Linked DNA regions of Homo sapiens: region 1 is linked to region 2. The links come from fine-mapping of genetic effects on plasma protein levels. Region 2 holds a variant in brackets. A gene starts in the other region. All regions are shown on their reverse strands.

Region 1 (4,382 bases), not on the chromosome of region 2:
TGTCCAGTCTCTCTCTTCCACTAACTTGGTGTGGCAAATAGAACTCCTTTAGAGCCCTGGGAGTGATGCTATCTGGGGTCCCTTCCTGACCTTCCCTGCTCTCCACAGAAACCCTCTTGCTTCTGCCTAACTCTAGCCACCCTCCTTCAAGGGGCTCCTGATGGGTCTCTCTCTCTCTCAAATTTTTTTTCTATTCCTCCCAGAAGCGGCTGCAACCCCAATCTCCCTGCCTCGATTTCCCTTCTCACCTCACAGGGCTGAGAACAAGAGAAAAACACATGATAATGACAGGAGTTATAGGCAGAAGCCGGCTGTGCGGCATCTGGAGGATATTCAGGAAAAGCCCCTCTCCTCCTCCGGGGCAGCTAATTGGTGGGGTGGGGGTGGGGGGTAGAGAGTCCCCAAGATGGCACAACTGAGGGACACTAAATATGTTTTTTGGGGACACAGCTGCTTCCTGACCCTGTAAGTCTCCTCCCCCAATTGAAGCAAGTTAGGGAGAGGGAGGGAGATAATCTGGTTTCAGAGAAAAACTTTCCCAATCCCAATCTGGCAAGACAGAGGAGGGGGTGTATGATGGTATCCAGCCCAGTTTTGTCTTTGGATGAGAGGGCTAAGATGACAGGAGGGGATGAGATCCCACCCCTTCTCAAATCAGGGACCTAGCCCAGCCCAACCCCATGACCCCAGCTTAATGCTTAAAGCTTGGGCAAGACTTGAACCAGTGACTCACAAGTAGGAGAAAAAAACAGCTGACAAAAAAAGGGAAGAGAGGCACCCCATTTCCCCAAAAGGATGCAGTTCTAGCCTAAGCCTAACTCTGCAATATACAAAGTGTGTGTGTATGGGGTTTTGGGCTTGGAGGGGTGCAGGGAATAAACAGATTTACTAAAGGAGTGTGGGGGCACAGCCATAATCCCCATCCAACCTCCAACTCTCCTTCCAATCCAAACTGTGATGAAGCCAGAAGTCAGGAAGAAGGCAGCCTCCCCCACCCTCCTACCCCAGCATTCCAGGCCATTCTCCAGTCCCCTTCCCCAGTGATGACATCTGACGTTTTTTCATCTCAAAGCTCCCAGGAATTAAGAAGGAAAATTCAAAGTCACATAGTATGGCGAGCTCCCCCTCTCTGCCCCCCAACACAGCCCTACCCCAGGCTACTGACAGAGGCCCTGAGAGGGGGAAGAGCCTACTTCAGCACCCAGGCCTCCAGCCGGGGCTCTGGGGTCGATTCCACGCCCAAGCAGGGGGCCCTCCCTCTCCCCACCCACAGCCTTCCCGGGCCTGCCTGCCCTCTGCCCGGCAGGGTACCCCTGGCCTGGCTCCCCTTTCGAGCTACAGAGGCCAGTGCAAAAGCCACCCCCCCCACCCCCACCCCCTTTTGCAGCCGAACATTGCAAATCCGGATTCCTTCACAATTCAGATGGGGGGTGGGGGGTTGTGAGGATGTAGGGGAGGCGGAGGCCCTCCCCGAACAGAGATAGGAAAAGAAGGCCTCTCCTCCCCAGGATCAGAAAAATGGGGAGCCCTCTTCTCTCTACCCAGGCCTCTGGTCTTTGTTTGTGCTGGGGGGCCCCGGAAGCATCATTTGCCCAGGGCCCCCATCCCCCAAATCGGACCCCATCCCCGCCCCCAGTCGGGCCGCTGCTGTGTCAGCTGGACTGGGATAACAAAAGGCACCCCCTCCCGCGTCTCCCTTCCCCATCCGTATGCAGGAGTGGGGGCTGGGGAGAGGGTGCCCCCAGGGGTCCAAGGGGGACGCGGAATCTCACTCACCGTCGATAGCCGCCGCGACCAGAGCTGAGAGCAGGGGCAGCAGCAGGAGCAACGGCGGGGTCAGCATGGTGTGGGCTGATGCAAGCAGCAGCCCCTTCCCCTCTGGTCCTGCTACTTCTCTCCTTCACCCCCCCCAGTTGGGGGGTCCCCCTTTTCCTCCTTTCCCCCTCCTCCTTCTCTGTTCTTATTCTTTCCTTCGGCAAAGCGCACCAGGGGCGTGGGTGAAGAGGTAGAGTTCCGAGCCCCTTGGGGAGGGCCTGCTGACGGGGGTGCGCCCCCTGCCCCGAAATCCAAACCCTTCACCCCACCCCCCCGCTTCACTCCTCGCTGCTCTTTCCCCCTCCCCGGGCGAAGCTCACAGCCCCATCTCGGAGCCGCCTCCGGCTGCAAAAATGCACAATTGGGAGGAGGCGGGGAGGGGGGGTGGGGGGCGTGGACCGGGTAGGGGAGCCTTTGGAGGGGGCTTGATGGAGCTCTGGGGGCTCCCCTTGTTTCCGCCTCCTCAGTGCATGGGCCTGGAGCTCGCACCGCTGTTCCCCGGACTGAAGTGCCGAGGGGGGGGCTGATGGGGGAGAGGGAGGGGACGGGTTGAGGAGGGAGGGAGGGAAGGGGCGGGGAAAGAAAAAAGGTTGGTGGGTGGGGGGAGAAAGAGCTACGCGGCAATCCAGTGAGTGCGCATGCGCCGATTTGACGCGCTGCCCGGGGGAGGGCGACGCGGACCCGCGACAGGGTTCGGAGTTCTGGAAAGCGGTCCAAGAGTGAGGGTCCCGGGGACTCGCTGGCTAGTTTGGGGCCTGGGGCGCCCTCTCCCCTGGCTGGGCCCTCCTCCCTGGTGCTCCAGAGAGCAGAAGGGGTCGAGGGTGGGATTGGGCAGTGGGCGGAGAGCTGAGCGGCTCCCCTTTGAAACTCAGTGTCATACTCTAGGATTTCAGGCTCCCTCCGGGGGCGTCCGGGACTCAGTGGTCTGGGCCGAGGCTCGATTTTCTAGGGGAACCCTGAAGGTGCCTCCTCTGCCCGGGGTGGGGACAGGGACCGCCAGTCCGCGGGGAAGGTGCAGGGAAAGGCTGAGCTTTGATTTGGAGACTTTGGAAGACCGGACTGGGATTGGGGCCTGCGAAGGAGGGGGCGGGGTTGGGGAGGGACCGCGAGGACCCGCCCCCACCTCGCTCCCGGGCTCGGAGTAAACAGGGACACCCGAGGGGACACGCCGGAGCTTGTCCGCCCGCGTGGGGCTCGGGGATGGAGCCCACCTTAGTACCCGCCCGCCCTGCTCGCCCAGCCCTAGGCGCGGGAGGGGCAGGCCCTGGTTTGGAGGGAGGTGAGTCACCAGCGGGTGGGGTTGAGGAAAGGCCACCCCCTTTCGCCCAAGAAGTCGGGGCTCATTTATTTTTCTGTTTTTTTTTTTTTTTTTTTTTTTAATACCTTCTGACTGGCTTGCCATCAAGTTAGGGTTTTAGATTCCGAGCGCCAGGATTTGGAATAAGATGAGGGACTCTGGACCTTCGTTTCCAGGCCTCGGGTTCCAAGGAGGTGTCTGCTGAGCGCCGGACCTTTGTCCCCAGGCTCAGCCCACACGGGAATGATACTTTGCAGAAGGCAGGCGCCAGGCGGTTCCCAGGGGCCAGTGAACGTGCTTTTGGTCACTGCCCCCTTCTGGGCGGCGTTTTATGGCTGTTACCTTAGTGTCTGACTTTCTAGGTGTCTGCATGTCAGAGTTCAAGGAGCGGGGCAGACGACGTCGGCTGCCAAAAATTGACGCTGGAGAGGAGGGACTGTTCCCCCTTTTACGTTCTAGTTACGGAAAAGTCCCCACTCCAGTCTGTCCTTGGCAGAAACAGGAGCAGCACGAAGGACTTGCCTCCTAATGACAGTGAGCTCAACCTTTAGCTTCTTCCAGCCGGCTTTGCTCAGCGCGGTGGCCACCTGCCTTTAGTCTCCTGGGCTAGAAACCTCAGACTTTATGCCAACTCAAGGGGGCCTTTCCTTCCTATATCCAATCTTGCCAGCCTGTGCTCCAGGCTTGTCATTTTTTTCCTCTGAAGTATATCTCAGATTTCCTCCATTTCCACTGCCAGAGAGTTGCTCCAGGCAGGAACGGGGTCTTATTTCTCCTTTTATCCAGCTCCCATGGCCCAACACAATGTGAGACGCACTATGCGGACTCACCAAATGCCTACGAGGTTCCTCCCAGGGCCCCTCCCAGTATTGGGATCCAAGTGAAATCAGGTCGAAACAGACTTTAGACAGCTTGACAGCTTTGAGAGGAAAACGGTATCTGGAGCAACCACATGTAGCCTGAGGGCTTGAAGGGGCTTTCCTCCCTCCCCCTACCCATCTGTCAGGTGAATCTTCCAAAAACTGCTTTCCCGGTGTCTCTTCCTTGCTGGGGAACCTCTAGTGGGTGTCTATAGACCAGTCAAATGTGAACTCCTCTTCAGTCATGGCTTTCCAAAACCTGGCCTCAGTCAGCATGCACTTCTCACTTGCAACCTCCCATCCCCTGCTGTCTCCTGAATGTGAATGTGTATTTTTATTAACTTTATATTGTTAAAAAAAAAAGAAAGAAAGAAAAGATAATACCTAGTGGTTAAAAAAAGTACAGGAAG
Region 2 (4,382 bases):
ACTATAAATAGCTTCAAGAATCAGGATAGTATGGTACTGGCAAAGGAATAGGAATATATGTAAAGTGGGACACAGCATCCAATAATAGATCCATACATACAGAACCAACTGATTTTTGACAAAGGTCCCAAGGTAATTCAATGAGATAAAATTGTCTTTTCAATAAATAGTTCTGAACAACTGGATATCAGTATGCAAAAAAAGATGACTCTTAACCCTTACAACAGATAAAAGCTTCATTCAAGGTGGCTCATAGACCTAAATGTATATGCTAAAACTATTAAGACAGAAAAAAACAAACAAGCAAAAAAAACTTTTTTGTTTGTTTGTTGTTTTGAGATGGAGTCTCACTCTGTCACCCAGGCTGGAGTACAGTGGTGCAATCTCGGCTCACTGCAACCTCCACCTCCTGGGTTCAAGTGATTCTCCTGCCTCAGCCTCCCGAGTAGCTAGGATTACAGGTGCACGCCACCGTCTCGGCTAATTTTTGTATTTTTAGTAAAGACAGGGTTACTCCATGTTGGTCAGGCTGGTCTCAAATTCCTGACCTCGTGACCCACCCGTCTCAGCCTCCCAAAGTGCTAGGATTACAGGCGTGAGCCACGGCCCGGCCAGGGCAAAAAATCTTTATAACCTTGAGTAGCAAAGATTTCTTACATGGAACACAAAGGCACAAAATCATTTAGAAACACAAATTGGAGCCGGGCGCGGTGGCTCACGCCTGTAATCCCAGCACTTTGGGAGGCCGAGACAGACGGAACACGAGGTCAGGAGAACGAGACCATCCTGGCTAACACGGTGAAATCCTGTCTCTACTAAAAATACAAAAAATTAGCCGGGCATGGTGGTGGGCGCCTGTAGTCCCAGCTACTTGGGAGGCTGAGGCAGGAGAATGGTGTGAACCCGGGAGGCGGAGCTTGCAGTGAGCCGAGATAGTGCCACTGCACTCCGGCCTGGACAAAAGAGCGAGAGACTGTCTCAAAAAAAAAAAAAAAATGGATTTGATCAAAATATAAATCTTTTGCTCTTCAGAGGACAGTGCTGTATAATGAAAATGCCAGTCACACGCTGAGAGAAAATGTTTGTGAAGCCTGTCTAATAAAGGGCTTGTATTGAGATTATATAAAAATATCTCACAACTCATTAAGACAACTCAATAAAAATGAGCAGAAGATCTGAACAGCCACTTTTCCAAAGAGATACAAATGGAAAATAGGTACATGAAAAGATGCTCAACAAGTCGTTAAGAAAATGCAGATTAAGCCGGGCGTGGTGGCTCACGCCTGTAATCCCAGCACTTTGGTAGGCTGAGGCGGGTGGATCACCTGAGGTCGGGAGTTCAAGACCAGACTGACCAACATGGTGAAACCCCGTTTCCACTAAAAATACAAAAAAAAAATTAACTATGCATGGTGGCTGGCGCCTGTAGTCCCAGCTACATGGGAGGCTGAGACAAGAGAACTGCTTGAACCTGGGAGGTGGAGGCTGCAGTGAGCCGAGATTGAGCCACTGCACTCCAGCCTGGGTGACACAGTGAGACTCTGTCTCAAATAAATAAATAAATAAATAAATAGAAAATGCAGATTAAAACCATAATGAAGGATAACACTACAAACCACTAGAATGGCTGTAAGTAAAGACTGCCAATATCCAGCACTTGGCAAAGATAAAGATCAACTGGACCTCTCATACGTGGCTGCAGAACAGTATAAGCACTTACCCTATAGGACTCAGCAATTCCACTCCCAGGTGTTTATCAAAGAGAAGTAAATTGCATCCACTTAAAAGACTGATACTCGGCCGGGCACGGTGGCTCATGCCTGTAATCCCAGCACTTTGGGAGGCGGAGGCGAGTGGATCACCTGAGGTTGTAAGTTTGAGACCAGCCTGACCAACATGGAGAAACCCTGTCTCTACTAAAAATACACAACTAGCTGGGCGTGGTGGTGCATGCCTGTAATCTCAGCTACTTGGGAGACTGAGGCAGGAGAATCGCTTGAACTTGGGAGGCGGAGGCTGCGGTGAGCCGAGATCGCGCCATTGCACTCCAGCCTGGGTGACAAGAGCGAAACTCCATCTCAAAAAAAAAAAGACTGATACTCAAATGTTCCTAGTAGCTCTACTCATAACAGCCCAAACTGGAAAATACAAACGTCTCTCTATTGATGAATGGATAAACAAATTGTGGTTTATCCATACAATGGATTATTACCCAGAAATAAAAGGAATTAACTATTGCTACATGCAACAACAGAGATGACTCTCAAAAGCATTATGCTAAAGGAAAAAAGCCAAAGATCACCACTCAGCTTATCTTTCTGTAAGGCTAACTCAAGTCAATCTGGCAA[T/C]TTTGAGTAGTTCCAACAAATTACATTAGCAACTACTTTCATGAAGTTCACTGCAAAGAAATCTGTACGTTTCTAATATGACCTAAAACCCAACAGGGCAAGCATTCAAGGTAAGGACCAATACTAGCAAACTCTTAAATGGCTGGTTTAAGTTGGGACTATATGCCTTGATTGATCTATGGGCGTAGTAACCATTGGGTAACAATTCAAGATAATGACAAATACTAGCGAGTTTTTTTTGTTTTGTTTTGTTTTTGAGACAGAGTCTCGCTCTGTCGCCAGGCTGGAGTTTAGTGGCGTGATCTCGGCTCACTGCAACCTCCAACTCTCTGGTTCAAGCGATTCTCCTGCCTCAGCCTCCTGAGTAGCTGGGATTACAGGCACCCGCAACCAAGCCCAACTAATTTTTGTATTTTTAGTAGAGATGGGGTTTCATCATGTTGGCCAGGCTGGTCTCAATCTCCTGACCTCAGGTGACCCATCTGCCTCGGCCTCCCAAAATGCTGGGATTACAGGAGTGAGCCACTGCGCCCAGCCAGCAAACTCTTTTTTTTTTTTTAAGACGGAGTCTCGCTCTGTCATTAGGCTGGAGTGCTGTAGCGCCATCTCAGCTCACTGAAACCTCAGCCTCCCGGGTTAGAGGGATTCTCCTGCCTCAGCCTCCTGAGTAGCTGGGACTACAGATGCACAACACCACACCCAGCTGATTTTTTATATTTTTAGTAGAGACGGGGTTTCACCGTGTTAGCCAGGATGGTCTCGATCTCCTGACCTCATGATCCACCCGCCTCGGCCTCCCAAAGTGCCGGGATTACAGGCGTGATCGGCCTAGGCCGCCGTGCACGGTGGCCTACGCCAGCAAACTCTTAAATGGCTTAAGTTGGGACTATATGCCTTGATTAATCTATGGGCATAATAACTATTGGAGAACCCAGTTCCTTAGTGTAAAATGCAACTTACATTTTAATAATATGATATATGAGAATAAAGACAACTGCTAATGCCCATAATCAAAATGGAGTCTAAAACAGCCTTGAAAACAGAAAAATAGATAGAAACTTAAGACTACTTGCCGAGTAGTCTTCTTTATGACAGGATGCTTGAGTTCAGGGCCCTTTAAAGAAAAAACAATTACCCCAAAGTGCCATCCCCTCACCGTATCTCCCACCAGACTAAAACTATTTTTGTTAAACATATGCAAATGTTAAAATGCAACATAATATGTCTTTTAGCCTTCATATAATGTAAAAACTCAAGGTGGTTTAAAGTGAAATATTTTTAAAATGGTGAAATTCAGCCAGGCACGGTGGCTCAGATCTGTAATCCCAGCACTTTGGAAGGCCGAGGCGGGTGGATCACAAGGTCACAAGACTGGGACCGTTCTGGCTAACACGATGAAACCCCACCTCTATGAAAAATACAAAAAAAATTAGCCAGCCGTGGTGGTGGATGCCTGTAGTCCCAGCTACTCGGGAGGCTGAGGCAGGAGAATGGCGTGAACCCGGGAGGCAGAGCTTGCAGTGAGCCAAGATGGCACCACTGCACTCCAGCCTGGGCGACAGAGTGAGACTCTGTCTCAAAAAAAAAAAAAAAAGGTGAAATTCAAATTAACAACATTATTTTAAAGAGAGAGATCGATGATTAGCTGAAACCAAATTGCTAAGTTCAACACAGGCTTGGTCCTGACTATTAAGGAGCAAGATTTGTTTAGTCAGGCCTGTCCCCTTGCAGGTCTATGCAAAAATGTCTCAGCCATCCCACCTCTCTTCTCTGAATTTCTCCTTCAGTGGGCTACCTCTGGGCCCGAGATAGAATGTTATTAAGACCAACCAACACTCTCCTCAAAGCCTATGGCAAACAGTGTGCCGAGGCACACCAGGACACAGGACTCTGGTGGCAAAGCCCATGGGCATATTGCTGACCCGCCCATGATCTAAATATGCTTCCCACTACCCCTGGCTCATTATCATATTTGGCTGGGTGCAGTGGCTCACTCCTGTAATCCCAGCACTTTGGGAGGCCGTGGCAGGCAGA

Direction of the effects. Positions count from the first base shown, and alleles are read on the strand shown. Strength reflects both the effect of a copy and how common the allele is.
For the plasma level of the protein whose gene starts at base 2,325 in region 1, C is the high allele of the variant in region 2 and T is the other (moderate association).

The links. PIP is the posterior inclusion probability: the model's chance that the variant is causal. The UK Biobank Pharma Proteomics Project read protein levels with antibody pairs (Olink). The fine-mapping took linkage between variants from a reference panel, not from the people measured, so its PIPs are less certain.
Region 1: it holds the start of LRP1, and the variant in region 2 is fine-mapped to the plasma level of the LRP1 protein (UK Biobank, PIP above 0.99).

The regions. Positions count from the first base shown.
Region 1 is chr12:57,126,426-57,130,807 of GRCh38, reverse strand. It overlaps LRP1 (LDL receptor related protein 1), which reads right to left and starts at 2,325. Exons shown (of 89, transcript NM_002332.3): 1 at 1,777-2,325. The coding sequence starts at 1,843. RefSeq lists an enhancer at 2,665-3,318.
Region 2 is chr4:2,608,453-2,612,834 of GRCh38, reverse strand. All of the region lies in intron 2 of FAM193A (family with sequence similarity 193 member A), which reads right to left. Among named protein-coding and RNA genes, the nearest start is that of FAM193A, 74 kb to the right of the region's middle. The variant T/C (reference allele first, on the strand shown) is at 2,349.